Linked DNA regions of Homo sapiens. The protein of the gene in region 4 interacts with the protein of the main gene of each other region in a biochemical or structural test. Each region holds a gene or a part of one and is shown on either strand. Other genes may lie near its edges. The genes, in order: ZCCHC3, RNF125, USP3 and IFIH1.

Region 1 (7,306 bases), on a different chromosome or scaffold from region 4:
TAACTAAAATGTTTCACTTCCTCTAACAGTGATTCTGATTTATTGGAACTGTGTTAGGACTTAAAACCCGTTTTAACAGTGTGCTGATTGTGATGCAAAGGGACCGGCACAACGTAGTAGGTGCTAAGTGTTGCCTGCAGGGGTGGGAAATGTATTTAGCAAGGTAAACAAATGGAGTGTAGGGGAAGTGGGATTGAAATACGGTCTGGAGCTGGGTAACTGTGCATCTAACACTTTGAAAGGAAATAGTGCACCAGTTTTAGCAATACAAAAGATAAATATTTATTCAGAACAAAACTTTTAACAATCAATTTTACATTCTAAGCCACAAGGAAATAGCAAAACATATAGCAAAGGAAAAGCAAACACTAAAAGAAAAGCAGTGTACTGTCTTTTCTACTGGATAACACTTAGTTGGCCCATGACCTCTCGCTTGGCCTATCTCCCAAGTACATTTTAGAGTTAACAGCTCACTCATAATTTTGGGTTAAAATCCATCTTTCTCCTGAGAATCAGGAGTTGCACATGAGCTCCAGCTAGCTGCTTCTCTAGGGTTCGTAGCTATTGAGGCTAAGGTGCAAATGTAAACCTTTGGTAGGTTTCTTTACACAGGGGCACCCCCATTTCTCACTGGTGGCAATGAATGGGGAAGGGGTAGGGCCTCCAAAGGACCTGGCACACTGTAATCCAGAAGTGGTGCCCCAGGGAGCAACGAATGCACCCTGGAGTGTGGTCCTTGGTCCGTTCCGTATCTCCCAAGTATTCAGAAGCCCCTCCTTAAAAACCTTCTCTTTCTGCTCCCTCCTCCAGGTGATTTCTCAGCATTCCTCTGGGCTGATCATTCTGGAGAGATCAGACTTTCTGGGCCCTCAAGTGTTGAGGAAATTGTTGTGAAGTGTGAGAGGTAGTGGAATGAGCACCGGGCTTGGGGTCAGGGGACTCTACTATAGGCTGGCTCTGGCACCAGACAGCTATGTGATTTTCACCCAGTCATTTAACCTCTTTGGGCCTGTTTCATCTGCTGGAAAACCAGGGAATTGGTCCAAACCAACTCTCAGGTTCTTTCCAGCAGGAATATTCTAGATTCCATGATTCTATAAAAAATGGCTTCTGAGCCACCAAAAGAGCTGTCATGAAGTCCATGCATCTTTGTGCCATAAGAGAGGCCCTTGGCCACCATTCAGAGCTTATTGATTCAGATTATATACACTTCTAACAACACTGGTTTCACAAATTCTCAGACCACGTAGATTAAAAGCAGCAAATTAAATGAGGGAGGGGAAGAGCTGCAAAAGGTAGACACTCTGATAGAAGCCACAGTCAACAATGTTTTCAATTCAGCAAACACTGATGGAGTGCCTACCACGTGTTGGGCCCCGTACCTAGTGCTGGGGCATAAAGATGAGCAAGGCAGCCCAAAGGGTGAAAATCCAGGGGAAGAAAAGGTATGGGGCGGGGAGGGCGGGAGGGGGGCAAGGAGAGAGAGAAAAAGTACAAGAAACAAAACAAATACCCAATAGAAAAACGAAAATAAAATTTTAAAAGGGAGGGGCAACACATCTGCACGCTACAGTTCTCCGCAGTCGTTATTGGTGACAGAGTCACCAATTCAGAACAGGCTGAAATGGAGTAAACTCGGTTTAAGAAGGCATAGAGAGATGTCTCTTGTAGGTTTTAAAAAGATCTCCTTCAAAAACGATAAAAAATGGTTTAAAAAAAAGTTTTGGCACTTAAGAGGGATAAGCTGGCTGTGTGTTCACCCTGGCAGGCAGGCGGGTGTTTAGTGCCCGGCCACGCCGGTTAGCTGAGCTGCCACGGAATTGTGCACTGCTTTGGGACACTGGGCAAAGGCGTGTCCTCGCTTGCCACAGAGGTTGCACACGATGCCCTTCCGGCAGTAAGGGCTCAGGTGCCCCTCCTCCCCGCACCTGAAGCACCTGTCCTGCGTGCAGCTGCCGCTCATGTGGGTCCGGGAACCACATTTAAAGCATGTCTTGGGCTGCCCCTTGTACCAGCTGTAGCCCCTCTCGGCCCCCAGGAAGAAGGCCCCTGGCAAGTGCCTGACCCCGCCCTCCCCCTGGCGCAGCTCGATCTCGCATTTGTACTCCCCGGTCCAGATCCCAAACCTGTCGGTCACTTTCACCGGCACGGCCAGCACGTCGCAGTGGCGCTTGAGCCAAGTCACAATGTCCTCCACGTCCACCGTCTCGTTCCGGAAGAGGATGAAGAGCGTCTTCAAGCTGGACTTGCTCCGCCCCAGCACCACAAAGTTCTCCCAGCAGTCCTCCTGCTCCCGCTTCTCCTCGTAGACGCGTAGGAACAGGGCCAGCTTCTCCGCTGAGCGGAAGCTCACGTCGAATTCGCGGCTGCCCGGGATCTGGATGACCGCGTAGATGTCGCTCGGGTCCATGCCGATGGAGCGCAGGATAAGCGCTCCTACCACGAAGTCCCGGGTCGGGCAGGCGCCCTCGTCTCCCTGGAAACAGATGCGGACGAGGAAGCGACCCTTGCCCGGGCCTGCCGCCGCCGCCGGCTCATCCTGGAGGGGCCGCTCGGCCGCGTCCTCGGCCTCGCCGGGCCTGGCCGGGGTCGCCATGGCGGCCGCCGCCGCCTCGGCCTTCTTCCTCCTGCCCGCCTCCGCAGCGCCCTTCTTTTTGCGGGGGTCCACCGCCTCGCCGGCCGGATCTCTCCGACGGCCCTTCGGATCCCCGCGGCCAGCCGGTGGGAAGTCGCCGAGGTCCGGCGCCGCCAGGCCCGCGGGGCCGCCGAGCCCGGCGCTCCCTCCACCGCCGCCGCTTTCCTCCTCCCGCCGCGGCGGCCGCGGCTCGCGGAATTCGCCCTTCTTCTCGGCTAGATTCTTCACCACCTGGGCCCAGCCCATCTTCTCGCGGCCGCCGTCGGCCTCCTCGCCCCGGGCCGCGGGCCGCGCGGGGGGCAGAAGCTGCGGCCGCCCCCGTTTCCTCTCTTCCTCCGCGCCGCCGCCGGTGGCCATTTTACCTCCTTCCCAGCATCCTCCACTCGCTCCCGCAGCCAAAGGGCGCCCATCGCGCGCGCCCGCCCGCCGGGGCTGTGTGGGTTTGGTTTTTTTTTTTTTTTGAAATTTGACGCTACCCTCCCCCGCCGCGCCCTCAAAGGTATCACATGCGGCGCATATTGGCCAGCGCCGGCTCTGCGCCCCCTGCGCTGAGCCTCTCTTCCGCCAGCGCTCGCTCCAACCTCACCTCCGTCCGCAGCGGGATGGGGCGCCCGGAGGCGGCCCTTTCCCCAGCGCGGGTTTGGCAGCCTCCGGCCTCGCTCTCGAGGATTTGGCGTTTCGCAAGCGGTGCTCGACGATTTCATGCTAGCAGCTTTGCTAACGGCCCACAGCCCACAGGCGGGACGGAGTTCGGCAACATCTCTCCCATTTTTTCTTTTTTGTACCTTTTCTGTTAAAAAAGCAAAAGCAATAGCAAAATTAAAACTTAGCTTTCCGTTTCCCCAGAACTGACTGCAATGCGTTATTTTTTTTCCCACGTCGGATTATGCACGTTTTCAAGAAGAAAAGTTGAAAGTTTTACAGTGAACATTTTACCATTAACTTTTTATCATTAAAATTTTACTCTGTCACACTACGCCTCGATCCATTCATCGGTCTTTATTTTTTGATACATTTCCAAGTAAGTCATATTGCATTAATTTTTATTTTTTTGAAAAGACTTTCGTCGTATTTAGGATGAAGTGTGAGTGCTGCTTAAGTTCCCAGTACTGTGTTAAGCACACTTCAGACTTTATTACATGGAATCTTCCAAAAACAATGCTGTAATTATGCCCATTTTACAGATAAAGAGGCAGGAGTTAAGTCACTTGGCGGAGTTAATAGGCAGCCCCACGTATAGGTAGCTTATATTTCTTTCTTTCTTTCTTTTTTGAGACGGACTCTTGGTCTGTCGCCCAGGCTGGAGTGCAGTGGCTCAATCTCGGCTCACTGCAGGCTCCGCCTCCCGGGTTCACGCCATTCTCCTGCCTCGGCCTCCTGAGTAGCTGGGACTACAGGCGCCCGCCACCACGCCTGGCTAATTTTTTGTATTTTTAGTAGAGACGGGATTTCACCGTGTTAGCCAGGATGGTCTCGATCTCCTGACCTCGTGATCGCCCGCCTCGGCCTCCCAAAGTGCTGGGGTTACAGGCGTGAGCCACCGCGCCCGGCCGGTAGCTTATATTTATTTAACCACTTTATTTCTGACGCCGTGGATCAAGAACTGTGCATCAGATCCTAGGAAACCTTGTTAACAGGCAGATTCCCTTCATCCCAACTGCTGGTATTGGTCTCAGGGGAGCCACTGACTTGGGCCGTTTGCACTTTCCAGTCCTCTCACTTTATATCCTCAGGCACCATTTCCTTTATCCCTTCTCAGCCACGCATTCCCGTGATCATACTCGGAACTTCACCATTACCAGAAACATCAATGTCTTAGATTCACATACTTCTCTGTTATTCTTTCTACTTGCCTGGTCAAGTTTCACCATGAGGAGAATACTTACACAACCAAACAATAGATGTATTTTAAACAATCTCTTCCATTCCTCTTATCTTAAGCCCTCACTCCAGGTAACTATCACATAATCAAATATCTGCAAGGGTCAGGCAGGTGCCTTAAGTAGAAGATATACTGGGTGAACTGGAGATCGAATATTCTATCTGAAGGGGCAACTGCTAGTCAACTGTAGCTGAATATTCCTCTCCAGAAGTGAGGGTCCACTGTGGGGGGATCTTTCAGTTTCCAAAGAGAAATCTGAACTCCAGTTTCTTCTTTTATGGGAAACATTCTTCTCTCTCTTTCGTCTTCTTTAAGATGGTCTCAGCTATATTTGGAACCTCCATATAAATTTCACAACCTGCCTACTAAGTTCCAGGAAACTATGAGATCTTAATTGGCGTTGCACTGCATTTGTACAGAATTACCACTTTATAACACGGAGTCTTTCCATCAATGACCCCACTTGATTTCTCACTTATTTAGGCCTTATTTTATGAATTTCAATAAAATATTATAGTTTTCTTCATAAAGGTCTTACATACTTTTGGGGATTTATTCCAAAGTACCACGTGGTTTGACTGCTATTGTAAGTGAAATTATTGTAAATCAGAAGTTACATATGGTTTGTTGGTGTCCGTTAGAGGAAACACGATTGAATTTTGTGTACTGACCCCATATCTGGCAACAAAGTTGAAACCTTAAAAAATTTCCAGTGGTTTTTGGAATCTCTTTACTTTTCTGTATTGCCAATCATATCGTCTGTGAATAATGAAGGTTTTGTCTCTTTTTTCAAATCTTATACTTTTTCTTGTCTTACTGCACTAGTCAGGAACTCTCATATAATCAACGTATTTTGAGCATTTTTGTTTTGTGTTGGACTTTAAAGGCATCTGTCTGTATTTTGAAAATATTTGACTTGTGGATTAGGTTCTGGCTCCATGTCCAATTTTGCTAATCATATCTTCTTCTGTTGTACAATTTCATTGGTATGTGTAGGGCCATCCTTTTGGTCAGTTTCATTTTTTCCAGGTCAAATTTTGCAGAGATTATTACATCAGGAGCTACAGGGGCCAGGCAGGTACCCTGCAAGGAGAGCAGTCCGGATGGGCACTGAGGCCGTATGGAGAGAGCAGCTCTGGAGGGCTGTGCAGATGATAAGAAGGAATGTCTAGGATCTTGTTATGTCGAGTATAGCAGGTGTCTCCACAAGAACCACGGCATCTTACCCAGTGACAACAGTAGGGATTGTGGGTTTAGGATGCTGTGCACATTTGCCACAAAGCCAGCACATCAAATGACATGGATGGAAGCCCGAGACTGCCTGCTCAGCCTAGTCCACCTCTCAGCAAGATGTTGATGGAATCAGAGCCCAGGTTGCCATTGCTGAGCCTGGAGCCAAGCAGGCCTGAGAGGCCCTCTATCACATTTATCACCTCACATGTGCAGGGAGGAAAGGCCAGCTCATCTTGCCCACCTATCCTGGGGGCAGGAAGTTCCATCAGGTGTTCGTGAACACAGAAATGCCACCTGAACAGGTGTAAGTGCAAATGGACCCCATCTGATTCAATCCCAGTTCCAACAGCTTTGTTACAGGTGATTGTCAGTGGCCCCTCAAGTGTGTTTTGGCTTTGATTAAGATGGCAGCATTTTTGCAAATGTTTTTATGTATTTTTTTTAAAAATTTGAAGTGGGGCCAGGTGCGGTGGCTCACACCTGTAATCCCAGCACTTTGGGAGGCCAAGGCGGGCGGGTCACCTGAAGTTAGGAGTTCGAGACCAGCTTGAGCAACATAGAGAAACCCCGTCTCAACTAAAAATACAAAATTAGCCGGTTGTGGTGGCGCATGCCTGTAGTCCCAGCTACTCGAGAGGCTGAGGCAGGAGAATCACTTGAACCCGGGAGGCAGAGGTTGTGGTGAGCCAAGATCATGCCATTGCACTCCAGTCTGGGCAACAAGAGCGAAACTCTGTCTCAAAAACAAAAAAAAATTGAAGTGGGAGGCAGTAATATTACTGGTTAAGTACCTGAGATGTGGGGCACAGGCAGCTCTCAGTGGGTGTCCATGCTGGGTCAGCATGTCTGATGAGGAAGGCTGTCTGACAGTGGCCAAGCTCTTCTTTGTATTAATCAAGGTACAGGTTAAGCTACTGTAACAAAGGGACTCTCAAATACAGGGTCTCAGACAAGGTGGAGGTTTATTTCTCTTTGATGAAGCAGCTCGGAATTTGGCAGGCAGTAAGGACAGGTAGGTGACTTTCTCCTGCAAGGTTGTCAGGGACCCACCCAGGTTCCTTCTATCTTGTTGTTCCTCCAGACGTAGGGTTCAGTAAAATGCTTTTGGTCTGCAAGTACCAGAAAACTCAACTCAAATTTGCTCACCCAGTAATGTGATTTCTTATTTAATCTCAAGTATTTTCTAGATAGGTGAAAGGTTAATTTAATTAATTAATTTCTTTTAGAGACAGAATCTTACTCTGTTGCCCAGACTGGCGTGCAGTGGCACAATCATAGCTCACTGCAGTCTCAAACTCATGGGCTCAAGCAATCCTCCCACCACAGCCTCCCAAGTAGCTGAGACTACAGGTGCACATCATCACATCTGGCTAATTAAAACAAAATTTTTTTTTTCTGAGATGTGGTCTCACTATGTTGCCCAGACTGATCTCAAATGCCTGGCCTCAAGCGATGCTCCTGCGTCAGCTTCCCAAGTAGCTGGTATTACAGGCACATACTATTGTGCCAGGCTAGGGTTGGTTAATTTAATGGCTCAACAGTGCTATCAAGGAAGA
Region 2 (2,933 bases), on a different chromosome or scaffold from region 4:
TTCCCGAGTAGCTGGGATTATAGGCATGCGCCACCACGCCCTGCTAATTTTGTATTTTTAGTAGAGTCAGGATTTCTCCACATTGGTCAGGCTGGCCTCAAACTCTCGACCTCAGGTGATCCGCCTGCCTCGGCCTCCCAAAGTGCTGGGATTACAGGTGTGAGCCACTGCGCCCGACATCCCAATTTTTAAAATAGTTATACTATGTCAACATTTTCAGAACATACTGGTATAGCATACTGTACTTTCTTCCTTTTATCCCCCATTTATTCTTAGTTCTTCAACTATATATTTAACACTTGCCCCCAGTTTTGTTTTGTTTTGTTTTGAGGAGGAATCTTGCTCTGTTGCCCAGGCTGGAGTGCAGTGGTGTGATCTTGGCTCACTGCAACCTCCGCCTCCCGGGTTCAAGTGATTCTCCTGCCTCAGCCTCTCGAGTAGCTGGGATTACAAGTGGGCACCACCACACCCGGCTAATTGTTGTATTTTTAGTAGAGATGGGTTTTGCCATGTTGGCCAGGCTGGTTTTGAACTCCTGACCTCAAGTGATCCACCTGTGTTGGCCTCCTAAAGTACTGGGATTACAGGTGTGTGCCACCGCGCCAGGCAATTGCCCCCAGTTTTTATTTGATGGCTCTGACTGTTTCTCATATCTGACTCTTTAATTATGAATCCAGGGCATAGATTAGTATCTCCATCTTGTAAGGATGCAAAGAAGCCATGAAAATAAGTAATATCAACTCCTGAGGATAAAACGTTACTTGACTAGAGTTAGCTTTTTAATTGTAATCATTTATAAACTTCTTTGTTCCTTACATATAAGCATAGTCATAACCATGGTACCCAAAATTTTCTATAAGTTATTGTAACTCCTTAAAGGTCTTGCTACAGTTCTTTTATCCAGTACAAATAATTGGGAAAATGTAAAGCTGAATGAAATCTAGTGAGCCTCATATCCTCCCTTTTAGATATTGATTTTAAGTTTGCTTTTCACAGCTGCTAAAAAGTAACAACTGATTTTTAGTTCCACAACCTCTCTTTCTTCAATTTAGATGGATCATACAATAAAGCAAAATCTGGCTGGTTACAGTGGCTCACACCTATAATCCCAGCACTTTGGGAGGCTGAGGTGGAGGGTCTCATGAGCCCAGGAGTTCAAGACCAACCTGGGCAATATAGTGAGACTCTTTCTATTTAAACAAAAACAAAAACAAACAAACAAACAAACAAAAAGCTGGGCATGATGCACACCTTTAGTTTCAGCTACTAAGGAGGCTGAGGTTGGAGGATCACTTGAGCCTAGGAGGTCAACACTGCAGTGAGCTATGATCATGCTACTGCCCTCCAGCCTGGGCAACAGAGCAAGACCCTGTCTCCAAAAACATAAATAATTAAATATAAATAAAAATAAAGCAAAATCTGTTGGGAAACGAGAAAAAGGAGAGGAATTTTTCAGGAATAATCATAAAAAGAAATGATCATCAGACTGAAAGTCCAGAGCCTGAGAAATGAAAACATATTTTTAAGCATTGGTGTTGACCATGCAGACAAACTTTTGTTAATTCAGAGCGATACAAAAGGCACTTTGAATCTATAAAACTTGAAAAAGTTAAAAATTGTATGTCGGATAAAGCTTTAAGTCATCTGTCACTATTAACCTCAGTGCAGCAATTCTGACTCCTGTGCCTGGATTCCTTTTATGATAATTTTGCCACCTACAGGACAGATTAGGTGCTGGTCGCCTGAATTATTTTGTGTTCTGAATTATTTTGAGCTCTAAAATGGTAAAGTACAAATACTCATTGTTTTACTGTGCCTTTGGCCTTTTATAAAAAGGTATTTATAATTCGTTGATAAAAACCAATATTTGAAGCTGTTGATTACCAACAAAAAAGTTTCACTCTCTTTATAGTGCTTCAGGATACAACTTTTTCAGGGCCTTATTAGAGAAAAACTGATTCACATGTTATTCTTCTAAAGCTAAATTATTAAAATGTAGGTTGAAAGATTGGATTGATTGTGAATCTACACTAAAGATATGGTTCCAGGCAGACCTCCTTAGAGACCTCCAGGCAGACCTCCTTACTGTCTTCAGTGATGTTTAATTTCATTACTGTTACTGGGTGCCAAGTGTCTTTCATTTGGAAGTGAACTTACTCCAGTTATTGAATGTTTATCATATCATAATTTGCATTTTTCCAACATTGAAGGTATTTTAAAAAGTCACTAAGAGATTCATTCTTTTATTATTCAACTACAAAAAAATAGTGTAATGATCAGAATTTAAAATGTGTGATTCTTTTTCTTCTGTAAGTATGTATTGCTATGATAAATAAAAAATGGCAGGACCATTGTTTTTATTAAAATATCTACTGTGTCTATTCTTAAACATTAATCTTGATTACTATTTTACTCAAATTTAATAATGCTTTTTAAATTTTCATCATTGAGCAACATCTATCACAAAGGTGTACATTCATTTAGGCCAGTACTTCTCAACTGGGGGTAATTTTGTCTCCCAGCAGACATTGGCAATGTCTAGATACATTTTGGGTTGTCCTAACAGGGCTTGGGTGTGCTAGTGGCCTGAGATCTAGATACAGGTCAGGGATGCTGTTCAGCATTCTACAGTGCACAAGACAGCCCCTTGCAACAAAGAATTATCCTGCGCAAAATGGCAATAGTGCCTAGGCTTAGAAACTCTGATTTGGTCAACATAATACTGAGCACTATGGATTTATTATTTGTTCTGCTAGCAAGAGGCTTCACTGAAATTTAAAAGGTAAGATGTAGATAGATTCTTCCCCCTGCTAAATCCATACTAAGTTTTGAATGGCTGTAGCTGTCATGCGTACCCATATGTCATGAGCATATTAATTTTTTGATTTTTTGCAAGAACACATACAGGACAGAACACAAGTGTTACTGACGAA
Region 3 (6,853 bases), on a different chromosome or scaffold from region 4:
CCACCCCTCTCCATTTATTTAGTCATTCAACAAATAGTTACTGAGGGCCTGCCACCTACCAGGCTGTATTCCAGGGGCTGGAAATCAGGCAACCAACAGCACTGGCAAGATCTTTGTTCTCATGGAGACTGACAATAGATAAGCAAGTAAACATGCAAGGAAATATTAGATAGGTGCCACTAGGAAAATTAAACCAGGCAACAGAAGAGTCTCTGAGCGGCAGCGGCCCATTCCCTGCCCCCAACACTTACCAAGCCTCCTCTTGATATAACTTTGGTTTCCCAAGGAGGCGTTGCTCCTAGAACAATCTCTATGGTAAATATTAATAATTAAGCCATCTCTCGGAGTGTTTCCAATGAGCCTTCCCTGGGTGAGGATAGTCAGAGCTAGTTTTCCCCAGGGCCTGGTCTGCCTTGTAATTGTTGGTTAAGGACCATCAATTCTGCCAAAAGTCCTAAGTTTAAGGTTTTAGGAAAATCGCGGCAACCTTGAGACCTTTCCTGAAGTGGTTCCCCTGCAATATATGACCTTGCCCTCCCCTCACTACCGACCCCACTTCCATGTATATACACAATTATCCTTTAGGAGAGAAACATTTGATAGTACGGTTGCAATTTTGCATTCCTCCCCTTTGAAAAATGCAAACTTTTAGAACAGGCCCGCCGCTTCGGGCAGGTTTTGCCGCGGAAACCACCCTCCCTCCCCGCCCCCGGATGTCCAGAGGGCTGGGTGGGGAATCCCGGGAGCAGCGCACTCAAGAGCACGGGAGCTGGAGGCTGGAGGCTGGCTCGTCACCATCAGGGCTCCCTGGGATGTAAGTCAGAGCTCCTCAGTGCCAGAGGGATGCGGGCCAAGAATAAAAACGCGAATGTTGTATTAAATGCAGCTGAAGAAACGAGGGACTGAAAAGGCAGATTTCCCAGTGTGCCTCATGGTCTTCCCCCATTTGACTCATTTACTCACTGCGGGTTTCTTTTTCTCCACTCTTTTCTTATTATGGAAACTTTCAAAGACACAGGAAAGTTCACTATTTTAGGGAAATCTAGCAAACGCCCCAGGAGGGCCTCTCTGATTTTGCCCAACTTCTCTGGACTGCCTGATAGAGCTTGCCCTCTGGGGACTATCACAATCGGGACTAAATTAGGGCCCCTGCTCCCAAGGGTTTTTATTCTAGCTGGGGAGAGAAGTCACTAATGGAAACTTTTTTTTCCCTTAAAATAGCTTACACCTTACAAAGCACTTTCACATTCCTGATTCCGTTAAAATCATAAAGCTAGAACTGAAAGGAAATTTAGAGATCATCTCTAGGGGTCAAATATTGGCAAATATTGGGCCACCTGCTAGGCTCTTGCCCATGGTAGACATGGCTAACATACCGCACACTCACCCGTTCATGTCATGTATTCACTTACTTATCAGACATCCTCCATGTTCTACATTGCATGTTAGAAATAAAGCAGAAAACCAGACAGACTTGTTTGCTACCTTATGGACAAACAAGAGGAAGAGAGACATTAAACAAATAATTACACGCATGAAGAGTGTTTTTAGGCCGGGCGCGGTGACTCATGCCCGTAATCCTAGCACTTTGGGAGGCCTAGGCGGGAGGATCTCTTGAGCCCAGGATTTCGAGACCAGCCTGGGCAATATAGGAGACACTGTTTTTTTTTTTGTTTTGTTTTTTGTTTTAAGTGTTTTTAAAAGCCGGTGTTGGGGCAGACAAGGACATCACACACTGGGAGGTACCCTGCGGGTGGGAAAGGGTCGGGAAAGACTCCCTCAGGAAGTGATGTTTAAACTGAAGTCTAGGGGATTAGGAAACGGAGTCTCTGAGAGGGTGAAGAAATATTACATACCAGTATGAAGCATGGCCTGAGTGAGGTCATGCTCCAGGGCCGAACAAGGGGTTATGGATGCTAAGTGGGGGTGGGTGTCCGGAGGAAACAGAAGGTTGGTGGAGCAAGGCCTTAAAGACAAATAGGTTGACATGGAGAGATGGGTGGAAGAACTTGAGCCAAGGGCAGATATTATTGTTTCTCCTCCTCCCGCTTCCCAGGGAAGCAGCTCTCATCTAGTGTCAGTAAAAACAAATACAAAGTTATAATTTATTGGCCACCTAGTATGTGGTGGCAATTTTCATGAATTCTCACATGTTCCTTGCGAGACAAGTATTCTTCTTCCAGTTTTACAGATCTAGAAAAGGCTTGGAACGGCTAGAGACGCTTGCTAAGCCTGGCCGTCAAGTAGGCAGCAGAGCTAAGATTTGAAAGCATGCCGGCCTGCCTTCCTAGGCAGACGCACTTTCCACAACGCATCACTGCCATAAAAATCCCAGGCCGAGGCTTGCTCTAACAGCAAATACCACTTGGAAAAGGACAGATCTTTGAGGACCCAGAAATACTTCTGGGGAAAGGATGAGCAGAGGTGCCCCCGGTGGGTGGATACCATTAGGCAGAGGTCTATGCGGAAGAGGCCGACTTGTGGCGTGGGAGGTAGGGAGGAGTAAGAAGTGATTGACGGGGCGTCCCTGGCTGCTCTAGGACTGCATTGCGGGGAGGTGCCCGGCTCTAACCACTGCCCGGCCCGGTTAATCATTTCCTGACCTTCCTTCCTCCTCTCGCTCTGGCCGCAGGATTGCCACATCAGTCTTCCCCCTCCTCCTGCTCGCCTTCTGGCCCCGAGGCTCCTTCGCCGGGTTTTACAAGGAGCCCCAACTTGGAAGCAATATTTGTAATAGCCCCGGACGTCCTCAAGTGCCCCAGTGAGATCGCAGGCTCGATCCAGGGTATGCCGGCCCAAGCGGCCCCTTGAGGCTTGCCCTCTTCTCTAATCCCTCACTAAAAAGAGGTCAGAGGGTCAGGGATCCAATCTCCATACAGATCAACAAGTTACAGACTCGGTTTCCCCCTGCGGTAAAAAGGGGATGGTAACAGCTGGTAGGGTGTTGCGAGGCTTAAATGCGGTATGGGAAGTGCCTGGCTGGGAGACCTTAGGTATCTAACAAATGCTAGATCCCTTCCCTTCTTATCGCCTGGTAATGGGGAGTTTAGCTTGCCCAGCAATCCCAGGCTACGTTTATCTCACTTGAACTTCCTGGCTTGAAAGTCCTACGATGTGCTGGAGGTAACGCAGATGGTGAGTCACAGTGACAGGATTTGAACGTGGGTTCATGGGCGCCCCTGCGGGCCCACCCACGCAGCATCTAGGTGGCTGGCTAACGCCACGTGTTCAGAACCTAGAAAGGGCTACGGATCGCACCTGCCGCAAGGAGCCTAACGCTAAGTCGGGCGGGACTGCCCTGGCACCCATGAAACCCGCTGCCCGCCTCCCCCGGGGCCAGGCCCTTGGCCTCCCCAGCTTGTTTCTTCGTGTATAAAATGAGGGCCACGGTGCCTGTCTGCCCGAGAGGTTTTAAAGTTCTTCTTTACACTTTGCGGAGCGGCCGGATTTTTACCACGAAGCCACCGAGTAGTCCGCACCACATAGGTTCAGTATCCTCCGCCCACCGCAGGAAACGCCGCGGACGGCCCGGGGTGCCCTGCTCGGCGCCCCACCCTTCCCGGGGCCGGGGAAGCGGCGTGACTAGGAAAGTCACTTCGGAACACAGCCGGACTCTGCGCCACCAGCTGGAGCTCGCCGGGACCCCACCCCGCGGGCTGGGCGGGGGCGGACCCGGGGGCGGGGCGGGGAGGGGCCGGCCTGGAAAGGCGGAAGCCTCCAGTCTAGGGGTGGCTGCAGAACCCGGATCTCGGAGTTACACGTTCTACGGAGCGGGGCGCCGGGAGACGGCGGGCGAGAAAACCCGGCGTCCGGAAGCCCGTGCTTTCTTTGACGCAAGGGCTCGAGACGCAGCCGCCGTCGGCCGAGCGCCCGGCTAGAAGCGACACCAGACGGAGCCTCCGGAGTTCCTCCGCCCCCACCTCGCCGGGTCCTGGAGCCGCAGTCCTCCCAGCTGCCCTCCTCGTGGCCATGGAGTGTCCACACCTGAGCTCCAGCGTCTGCATTGCTCCGGACTCAGCCAAGTTCCCCAACGGCTCCCCGTCGTCCTGGTGCTGCAGCGGTGAGTGCGGCCACGGGCCGGCCCCGCAGCGCACCCGAGGCCGCGGCTCTGCCGGGCCTGCCGTCTAGGGGCCGCAGGCGGCCGGCGCGCGGACTCGGGGAGGGGCGAGGGCGAGCCGGGCCCGGCGGGCTGGGGAGGGTACGCGATGAGGCGGGCGCGTGCGGGAGCGGCGGCGGCTCCTTTGTTTCCCGAGGCCCGACGGCCGGGCCAGCGAAGGAGAGGGCCGCGAGGGGCGGGAGTCCGCGGAGGCCTCGAGCGCGTGGGGGCAGCGGCAGGCGGGGACCCTGGCCAGCTGCGTGCGCCCTTGCCCCGCCCTGCCGTGGCCGGGGGCTGTGCCCGTCCGTGTTGCGGGGTCGCCTGTGGGGCGGGTGTCCGGCCCCCGAGGGGCGGCCGCACGTGTGGCGGGGCCCGCGCCGCGCTTCTCCGCAGACAGGGCGGGAAGAGCGCCGCTCTCCGGGCGCAGCTTTGTCTGGGCTGCGGGGCGCGCGGGGCTCCTCTCCTCCGCCGAACCCGGCCCGGGTTTCCTTTCCCTTCTCCGCAGGCTCGGGCACCTCGAAACCCCGAGAGGCGCTGGGAGCTCGGGCGGCGGAGGTCGGGGTCTTTCATCCGTCAGGGATGGTGAAGTTTGAAAACAGGCTGCGGGCTGAGAAGCTCGGAGGCTGAGCCAACAGCTGCTTTGGAGGGGACTGCTCGAGTTTGTTTTTCAGACCTTTTGGGTTGTCCGAAAATGCGTTGGGATTCCCAGTTCCTGTGTTGTGAAACACTTATTAGATTTATATAAGGCTTTTGAGTAGCTTAAGCGTTTTAACTCCTGCTGGCCCCCTTGGAAGCCCCAGTGCCCTCTCATTGTCTGCTCTAAGCGACTTCTTAGGATCGCACCGGCCACACGGCTTTGCTTACTTCCTGGTAGGGCCCTGGTGCCACCGCTAGTCTTTGTTTATTAGCTTTGAGATGGTCACTGGTATCTTGGGTTATATTAATAGCGTACAATTCGAATTGTGCACTTCAGAAATCTGAAGTTCATTTGAAGAAATATAGAAAAACGGCAATGGTATGATTTAGCTGTGACATGTCTCATTGTGGGCCGGAGCTGGGAAGATAGTTTAGAGAATGCCTTAGCACTTTTGACAGCTTACTACTTAAATAGTGATTATGTTCTTGGAAACAACATCGGTAGGTCCACAAAGAAAAATGTACTCTGGGATAAGGAATAGAAATAACTGCGGTTTCCTGGCGCGCTCAGACGTCTGATGCTTTGCTTGCCTTTGTAAAGTCAGGTATCTTTTTCTGCATGAAGCCTTTGAAAATTAACGGTTAATTGGTTTCACAGAGCAGTATTGCAGTTCTTTTGTGAGGATGCAGAAACTTGTGTAAATTAGCTTTTACCTGTAAATCTGTCGGGATGTTGAGTATAGAACAACAAATAAGGTGTATGGCACTGCTTTACAAATTGGTTGGTGGTGGTACATTAGCTATAACTGTAGCCATTGCTGTGGTGCTATAATTGTAACTTAATTTTTTTCCCAAAAGAAATTTGAAGAAAAAAAAAAAGACCAAAGTAAACACTAGGAGAAGCCTACCTCACAGGGAATGGTGGGATTGCTCTTGCTCATCTGTAGTAAACTACAGAAAGACAACATGGACAATTAGCACACTTCTGGCATTTTTTAGGTAAAATCACATCAAACTTAAAAATGGCTTCACTGGGCACATACATCTAAAAAATGGAAAAGAACTGTGCAAGTGGCAGATGCCCTCTTGTGAGTCAGTCTTGCCTCTGTCAGTCAGGGAGTCCACTTGACTGTGAAAAAGAGATGCAGGAAATTGAGCATCTCTTGAGGAACTTAATAAGTTAAAATGGAGCATAACGAGATGTGCTGATAACAAGAATAAACTAGTATGTGGGGTGATTTCTGTTCAAGGGGTAGGATGACATCTTTGCATCTTGCAACAAAGTGTGTCTGACATATAGCTTTGCAAGCCTGGGTCTAGTCACTTACTTGGATTTGTAGAACCAATAAAGCGAGTTTCGCAACTTTGTGTGAGTCCACACTCTGAATTGAACCCATTTTATGTAGGCCTCCCGTCTTAACCCGTTGGCATCCATTTGTTGATATAATCTAGCGTTATTGTATTAAGCTTGATCTTGTTCTTGCGTGCCTGTCGTTTCAGTGATTAAATGATGAATCTGTGAGTCCTTAACTAACTCATTATCTTGGAGTGTTATATAGTCGTATTTTTTTTCTCCCACACTCTTGATTTTATTTTATTTTTGTTTTTTTCATAGGGGACCAAAAGGGTAGCCGATGTGTTGACTAATACTGTGACTGGGTATTGAATCTGATTATGTTCTTATTAAGGAGGGGAAAATCCCTGTTTTGGCACTGGGACAATAAAAGTAATGCCCTTGCCTTATTTTCTTTGCGAGTTTGCAATTATACCACGGTAAGACAGCCAAGCAAATTGCAAAATGCCACAACATTCTAGGTTCTACCAGTTAGCAGTACCTAATTGGACAAATAGTTCTATTTTCTTTGAGTATCAGTTTCCTTATATAATCTGCAAAGAAAAGGGTAATACTTTGCATTTACTTCACAGGTTGCTGTTAGGATGAACAAGGTAATTTTTTGTGAAAACTTTGAGAAACTTGTATACACTGTTCTAGTAATAGGTGGTATTAGAGGTCAGAACATCTTTGTAAAGAGGACTCTGAATAATTAAATATCCAAAGCCCATTAAATGGGGACTAGAACAGACTGGCTTTATGCTGAATGATGCTTTACAGGGAGATAC
Region 4 (7,505 bases):
TCACTGGCCATCAGAGAAATGCAAATCAAAACCACAATGAGATACCATCTCACACCAGTTAGAATGGCAATCATTAAAAAGTCAGGAAACAACAGGTGATGGAGAGGATGTGGAGAAATAGGAACACTTTTGCACTGTTGGTGGGACTGTAAACTAGTTCAACCATTGTGGAAGTCAGTGTGGTGATTCCTCAGGGATCTAGAACTAGAAATACCATTTGACCCAGCCATCCCATTACTGGGTATATACTCAAAGGACTATAAATCTTGCTGCTATAAAGACACATGCACATGTATGTTTATTGTGGCATTATTCACAATAGCAAAGACTTGGAACCAACCCAAATGTCCAACAGTGATAGACTGGATTAAGAAAATGTGGCACACATACACCATGGAATACTATGCAGCCATAAAAAATGATGAGTTCATGTCCTTTGTAGGGACATGGATGAAATTGGAAATCATCATTCTCAGTAAACTATCGCAAGAACAAAAAACCAAACACCGCATATTCTCACTCATAGGTGGGAATTGAACAATGCGAACACATGGACACAGGAAGGAGAACATCACACTCTGGGGACTGTTGTGGGGTGGGGGGAGGGGGGAGGGATAGCATTGGTAGATATACCTAATGCTAGATGACGAGTTAGTGGGTGCAGCGCACCAGCATGACACATGTATACATATGTAACCAACCTGCACATTGTGCACATGTACCCTAAAACTTAAAGTATAATAATAAATAAATAAATAAATAAATAAATAAATAAAGTAAAATAAAACAATTACAATCTAGCCTTTGAGGTAAAAGTACTGTTTTTCACAAAAACATTTGCAGGTAACTGTTTTTGAAAAGACTTTAAGCTATGGAAGGAGTACTTGAAAAATGAATGTTCCAAAACTTATCTATTGATACGTGACTTTCATTTTTTGCCAAAACTGCTATGTAGAAAAGTTTTTATATGTGAAAACTTAAAAACCAGAATTTTAATTGAATTGGTGAAAGTGATTAGGAAATTATTATCAAGATTTAGTGAACTTAGCCATAATTTTTTTTCTATTTTAGGCTTACTACTATTTTTGAAATAAAAAGCTACGACAGTATCCTTTTAATAAACTTTCCTGCTAAATCAGCCTATCAGTTTCAGTTAAATGGCTGAAAGTCTTGCTTAAAGTCTCAGTTAAATGGCTAGCTATTATATAGTGTTTATATGTATGTGTGTATATATATATATATATATATATATATATATATATATATATATATATATATGTAACTAAATTTTTCCTTTATAAATTGTGCATTCTTTGAAGACTAGCACCGCACCATCTCTTCTTTAATTTTTATATAAGCGTAGTGGGCTGGAGTCACATATTGGGCACATAAACATGCCAGGCTGGTGCTAGTGTGTTACAGTCTATCCTTAGAACAAACTTCTGACATGATACCAGAATCTTTCCATTTTACAACTGATGTATTTGAGGTGATTTTTCAAAGCACAGCAATTAAGAAATAGTATTGAGATGTGAACTCAGACAGCCTGAACTCAGAGTCTCTGTGCTTAACCATACCCCACACTGCCAGGTTAAGAGCATCTAACACTTTAAATTACACAAAGCAGGCTCATTATTGATACAAATGAGCAAACAAGTAAAGGAACAGAACAACAATTCCAGGGTTTCTCACTAAACTAAAATTATTGTCATTTTCTTTGAAAAAGACATTATTGCTATGCATGGTCGTTAAATTGTAGTGGCAGCTCATATTGTTACTACTTCTTAAAAACTCAAATGAAAAGTTGCATAACAATGGGAAAATACATAGTTCAGCAGGATCTCCTGCCTCAAAAGAGAAAGGAAAAAGAAACTTACATTTGGGAACTGGTGAAAAGGATTAAAATGAAACCTAGTAGAAGAAACTTGACAGAGGAAAACAATTAATTACTCAAGTGAAAAACAGAAAATAAACTAAATCATGATGCAAAAAATATAGATGAAAAAAGGATACATTGTGAGAGATTGTGTCTTGGCTTTTGTTTCCTTAACCTCCTTTCTCCAAAAAGGGTCCCATCAAGACTATGGGAGATTCCTAAAAAAGAAGTCCCTTCCACCCACACCTAATCCTCATCACTCAGACCTCATCCAGCAGAGAGACTCCTACTTGTGAGAAAATATGAATTGTTATTGTTGGGTATTATGTGATGCTAATAGGGTTAGAGGAGGATGACTATTTGGGAAATCAACCTGTGAAACTGTAATATACATTATTATGTAGATTTACTATGGTCTTCAGGGCATTTATCCTCACCTGCACATTGCATATTTTTTAGTCATTACTTACCATCTATCTTCCCACTCCCATTAGAATGTGAACTCCATAAAAGTAGGAGCTTTGTTAATTTTATTAACTGCACCTAGATCAGTGCTGGTCATGTAATAGATACTTAATAAACATATTTTAAATGACTAGATGATACAATGAATGATATAATTTGAATGCCAAATATTTAAATATCTTTGGTTTAAATGTTTATTATTTGAGAACAGGTCAAATACCAAACATTTGATCCTTTCTCTTCCAGAGCAACAATTAAGTGGTATGAAGAAAATAACATTAACTGGTTCCCCATATTCAGTCAGCAACCCCTTCTCATTCCCCCATGTTTGAAACCAAGAAACAGAAGGATAAGTGCCAGGAAAAAGAATGTTTTTTGGTTTGTTAGTTTGTGCTTTAACATGTTGAATAAAACCCACTGGCAGCTGGGGGATAGGAGTATGTTTTTGCAACAGCCTTAAAAGATATTTTCATAGACCCAATACTTAAAATTAATAATTTGAGTGCTTTTGTAGAAACATCTAATTGGATTATCCTCTATCTGGGTACAAGGTCATCTCCCAAAATTAAGTGAAAAAGGAGTAGGGTTCTGTGAAGAAACAGAAAAGAACAGTATAAATCAGGCCTACCTGCAAGCCCAAGGTTTCATTTACTTCAACTTTCAGTGTATTTAACATTATGCCAGCTGCTATGGTCAACTCAAATACAACTCCCAGGAGAGATGTCATCAAGAGCCCACCAGTTGTGAGTAGTGTACTAGTTACTATGTAAATATATCCCTTCTTCAAGCAGCTTACAATCCTTCAGGGGTAGAAAAAGCCTTGCTACATAAGATAATTAGAGAATAAAATAAGACATGTTACCATAAAGTGCTCATTTGGATATTTTGTATGCCCCTAGTAAACACTCACCAAGACTCTGTACTTCTATTATCCTGTTCAAAGCACTATCAGGTTTTCCTGGCCTACACAGACTTTATTGAATGTACTTTGCTAACAGATTATTTTTCCTAAATATGTCTCTTTGATAACCTAAATGATCTCTCCATCCTTTATATAATTCTGGACCATGAGATTCTAGTTATGGTGCGTATGTGCCTACCACCCACAGTCACATGTGGCTACAGAATGCCTTCAGAATGAGTAGTAACCTTAAGGACTCACATTTATGTGGCTTCTGTACCAAAATGAAGCTGCCATTTTTCAGTGTGAATATGTTTTTTTTCTCTCATGACATAGACAAATGTTGATGTTTACTACAAGTTGGTACATTAGTTGCTAATTAAGTTCCTAGCTGCTCCAGCCAAAACTTGCTGTATTGAATCCAAGAAAAGAATGGCAGCTATATCAAAAATAAGTTGTTGGGGGATTTTTTTGTTTTGTTTTATTAAAGGAAAGTTGTATATTAAAGAATATAGGGAACTTACAAGCTGGGATCTAGGAAACTTTAAGTCTTGGCTTCCTTCTAAGCTGAGTTGGTGGTTCAAGTCCATCCACATCTGTTACCAGGTCCTGGTCAAAGCTGCATAAATACCAGCAATCTAAATATGAGGCAGTAAAGTTAACTGTTTATTGTTACTCACTTTTTCGAACCCACCTCCAAATTCCCAGGGAAACAAGTTAGTGTTTGGGAACCCACAGGAGGTCAGGTTTATTTTAGGAAGGACTTCCTCCTGTCTTCTCCACATCTCTGCAAAGATGTCTTCTGAGCTTCATCTCTCACCTGTCCCTCGCAGTCTCACCACCCTCAGCCAGGCCTGCCTACATTCACCAGCCGAGGGTAACTCCCTGTTCACGTCCGGGTCTGTGGCAGTTTCTGTTCACTTCCCCTTTGGAAAGTCCCAAATCACATGCTTTTATGCCCTGCACATTTTGGCCTACAAAGGACCTTATTGTTAAGGCAGAACCTGCTGGGAAAACAAAATATCCGCCGGAGGAGCTTTGCTAGAGCGTTGGTCTTGGTGTCAGAGAGAATTCGCTTTCCTTTTCTGTTTCCCGCGGTGTCCTTAACCAAAGGCCTCCTCTCTTCACCCGCCCCGACCAAAAGGTGGCGTCTCCCTGAGGAAACTCCCTCCCCGCCAGGCAGATTACGTTTACAAAGTCCTGAGAAGAGAATCGAAACAGAAACCAAAGTCAGGCAAACTCTGTAAGAACTGCCTGACAGAAAGCTGGACTCAAAGCTCCTACCCGAGTGTGCAGCAGGATCGCCCCGGTCCGGGACCCCAGGCGCACACCGCAGAGTCCAAAGTGCCGCGCCTGCCGGCCGCACCTGCCTGCCGCGGCCCCGCGCGCCGCCCCGCTGCCCACCTGCCCGCCTGCCCACCTGCCCAGGTGCGAGTGCAGCCCCGCGCGCCGGCCTGAGAGCCCTGTGGACAACCTCGTCATTGTCAGGCACAGAGCGGTAGACCCTGCTTCTCTAAGTGGGCAGCGGACAGCGGCACGCACATTTCACCTGTCCCGCAGACAACAGCACCATCTGCTTGGGAGAACCCTCTCCCTTCTCTGAGAAAGAAAGATGTCGAATGGGTATTCCACAGACGAGAATTTCCGCTATCTCATCTCGTGCTTCAGGGCCAGGGTGAAAATGTACATCCAGGTGGAGCCTGTGCTGGACTACCTGACCTTTCTGCCTGCAGAGGTGAAGGAGCAGATTCAGAGGACAGTCGCCACCTCCGGGAACATGCAGGCAGTTGAACTGCTGCTGAGCACCTTGGAGAAGGGAGTCTGGCACCTTGGTTGGACTCGGGAATTCGTGGAGGCCCTCCGGAGAACCGGCAGCCCTCTGGCCGCCCGCTACATGAACCCTGAGCTCACGGACTTGCCCTCTCCATCGTTTGAGAACGCTCATGATGAATATCTCCAACTGCTGAACCTCCTTCAGCCCACTCTGGTGGACAAGCTTCTAGTTAGAGACGTCTTGGATAAGTGCATGGAGGAGGAACTGTTGACAATTGAAGACAGAAACCGGGTAGGTGTCTGTTCAGATGGAGCTAGCCTTTTAGGCAGATTTTGCAAAGCAGGCTTCCTTGTGCGTTTGCCCCTTTCCAAATGTGCTTGACCTCTTTGGGCAAATCTAGTTTCTTCCTTTGAGAAGACAACATCTAGGCACTTTAAGACAATTTTAAAAATTTAAACACAAAAGAACTACTTTTCTAATGTTTTCACTGAAGTAAAAAGGAGTTAACTCTAGAATCGTAATGTGTATTAACAGGTAACTTTTATTGAACACTTACTATGTGCAGTTGGTATCATTTTCAAAATGTATTACTACAGTTCATGTTCAGAGTAACCCACTGAGGCTCCTAATGTTATTAACTCCATTTTACAGATGAGAAACCTGAGGCAGGTTAAATAATTTGTCCAAGGTCTCCCAGGAAAAACAGTGGCAGAGCTAAGAATTTAGCTTGTGATAGTGTTGAATGTTTTTCTTATTTAATGTAGTTCCATGGAGCAGGGGTTAGTAAACTACGGCCCATGGGCTAAATCAAGCCTGCTACTGTTTTTTTCAGGCCCACAGGCTAAGAATGGTCTTCAGATTTTTCAATTTTTAATTTTCAGTGTTCATAAAGTTTTATTGGAACACAGTCATGCTCGTTTGTTTACATATTGCTTGTGGCTGCTTTTCTACTCCAAAGGCAATTGGATGGAGACTGTGTGCCCTTAAAGCCAAAAATATTTATTATCTGGCATTTTAGAGAAAAAGTTTTCCAATCTTTGCCCTACATTACACTTTGTGCCATTTAGTCTTAGCCCAAATGGGTAAATTGCAATCACACACACACACACACACACACACACACACACACCCTTTTTCTTTAATCAAAGTTTCAACATTCTTTGAGAATCAAAATTTAGAAACAATTCATTGAAAGAATGTGTTGCTAGTTTCAGTTTTTCATGTTAGTGAAGAAACTCATTTTTCTTAAGGTAGCATTTTGACAGGGCGAATTTTACTGATGACTTTACATTGAATGTGATATGAATTATTTTTTGATAAGTGAAGATGTACTGTGATGTGTATAAATGCTGACCTGTTTGAATGTGACTTATTCAGGCTCGTAAGTCAAAAGTCTTGTTTTGGAAGACATGTAGACAAATAAAGCCATGACTAAAAGTCAAAGGCTTTGTCTACACCACTCTATGATTTTCACATGGTTTTTTTCTCTCTCTCTCTTTTGGGTCATCCATTGTTTGTATATTCATACAAACTTCTGGGCATTTGATTGATTTGCTATAGCCTATGATGCAATTTAGTCTTTAGTGAATAAAGTTAGTGATCTTTTGTAGACTTGACAGACACAGGGCCTGTCCAAAGACCCAAACATGCATCTAATTTTGATGGCCAGTTTTCCCAACAAGTAAATTACTTTGCACTGTTGTCTGTAATGTTTATGTCGTTTTGTGTATTGAGAACCAGCTAGAACGCATTATAGTAGTCCAGCTGGATATGACAAATGTGTACATCACTGTGGCAGAATCTTAATTTGGAAGAAAGTATGCAGCCTTCAAGCCAGCTGGAGATGGAAGATGGCATTTCCAGCCACAGTAGCTGTTAGAAGTCCAGAAGCAACAGAGTCCAGTAACACCACAAAGCTGTTTATGTTTGGTGGGTATGATGTCCCGATTGCCAGCGAAACAGCACTTCTCCCTATTTACTCTAAATACTTCTGCCTATCAGCATCACTTTTGTCTTGCCTGGATTGAATTTCCGCCAGCTAGATTTTATCCAAGTTCTTGATTCTGGCAAGCTTGGAGGCAGCTAGCAGTAATGCAAGGGATTTGACACAAAGAAGATATAGAGTAACGGGACTTTTGTGTACTGGTAGCAGTTAAGGCCAAAACAACCCAAATTCTCCCTCTGATTCACATTTCAAAGGAGGCCCCAAAAGACTGAGCAGCTATAAATTTGAGGCTCTCTAGGAAGCAATAGTTTCTCTGTGAGAGTGTGGAATAATTTTTGTGTGCATCATTTACATGTATTATCAGTTCCAAAACTAAGATATGGTGGACAATGAGACGGAAGCATTAAGTTTGGTAGAATAATCTATATTGAGGTGGTGGTCATTGACAAATGTTTATCTTACAGCAGCAAAGTGTGATAAGACTGTAGAAGGGGAACACATGGATTTGAGGTCCATCTTGGCTTCTTACTATATGCGTTACTTT

Evidence for each region.
Region 1: the proteins of IFIH1 (region 4) and ZCCHC3 form a complex in vitro, tested with the Homo sapiens proteins (one study listed by BioGRID).
Region 2: of the proteins of IFIH1 (region 4) and RNF125, one has a biochemical effect on the other in vitro, tested with the Homo sapiens proteins (one study listed by BioGRID).
Region 3: of the proteins of IFIH1 (region 4) and USP3, one has a biochemical effect on the other in vitro, tested with the Homo sapiens proteins (one study listed by BioGRID).

Annotation. Positions count from the first base shown.
Region 1 is NC_000020.11:293,273-300,578, reverse strand, and holds ZCCHC3 (zinc finger CCHC domain-containing protein 3), read right to left. Parts: upstream 3,010-7,306; 5' UTR 2,993-3,009; coding exon 1,781-2,992; 3' UTR 258-1,780; downstream 1-257.
Region 2 is NC_000018.10:32,070,825-32,073,757, forward strand, and holds the end of RNF125 (E3 ubiquitin-protein ligase RNF125), read left to right. Parts: 3' UTR 1-2,395; downstream 2,396-2,933. UniProt on the Homo sapiens protein: E3 ubiquitin-protein ligase that mediates ubiquitination and subsequent proteasomal degradation of target proteins, such as RIGI, MAVS/IPS1, IFIH1/MDA5, JAK1 and p53/TP53.
Region 3 is NC_000015.10:63,500,771-63,507,623, forward strand, and holds the start of USP3 (ubiquitin carboxyl-terminal hydrolase 3), read left to right. Parts: upstream 1-3,822; 5' UTR 3,823-3,969; coding exon 3,970-4,060; intron 4,061-4,947; exon of another isoform or gene 4,948-4,966; intron 4,967-6,853. UniProt on the Homo sapiens protein: Deubiquitinase that plays a role in several cellular processes including transcriptional regulation, cell cycle progression or innate immunity.
Region 4 is NC_000002.12:162,315,657-162,323,161, reverse strand, and holds the start of IFIH1 (interferon-induced helicase C domain-containing protein 1), read left to right. Parts: upstream 1-4,477; 5' UTR 4,478-4,854; coding exon 4,855-5,307; intron 5,308-7,505. Other genes in the region: GCA (grancalcin), read right to left, coding at 3,923-4,027.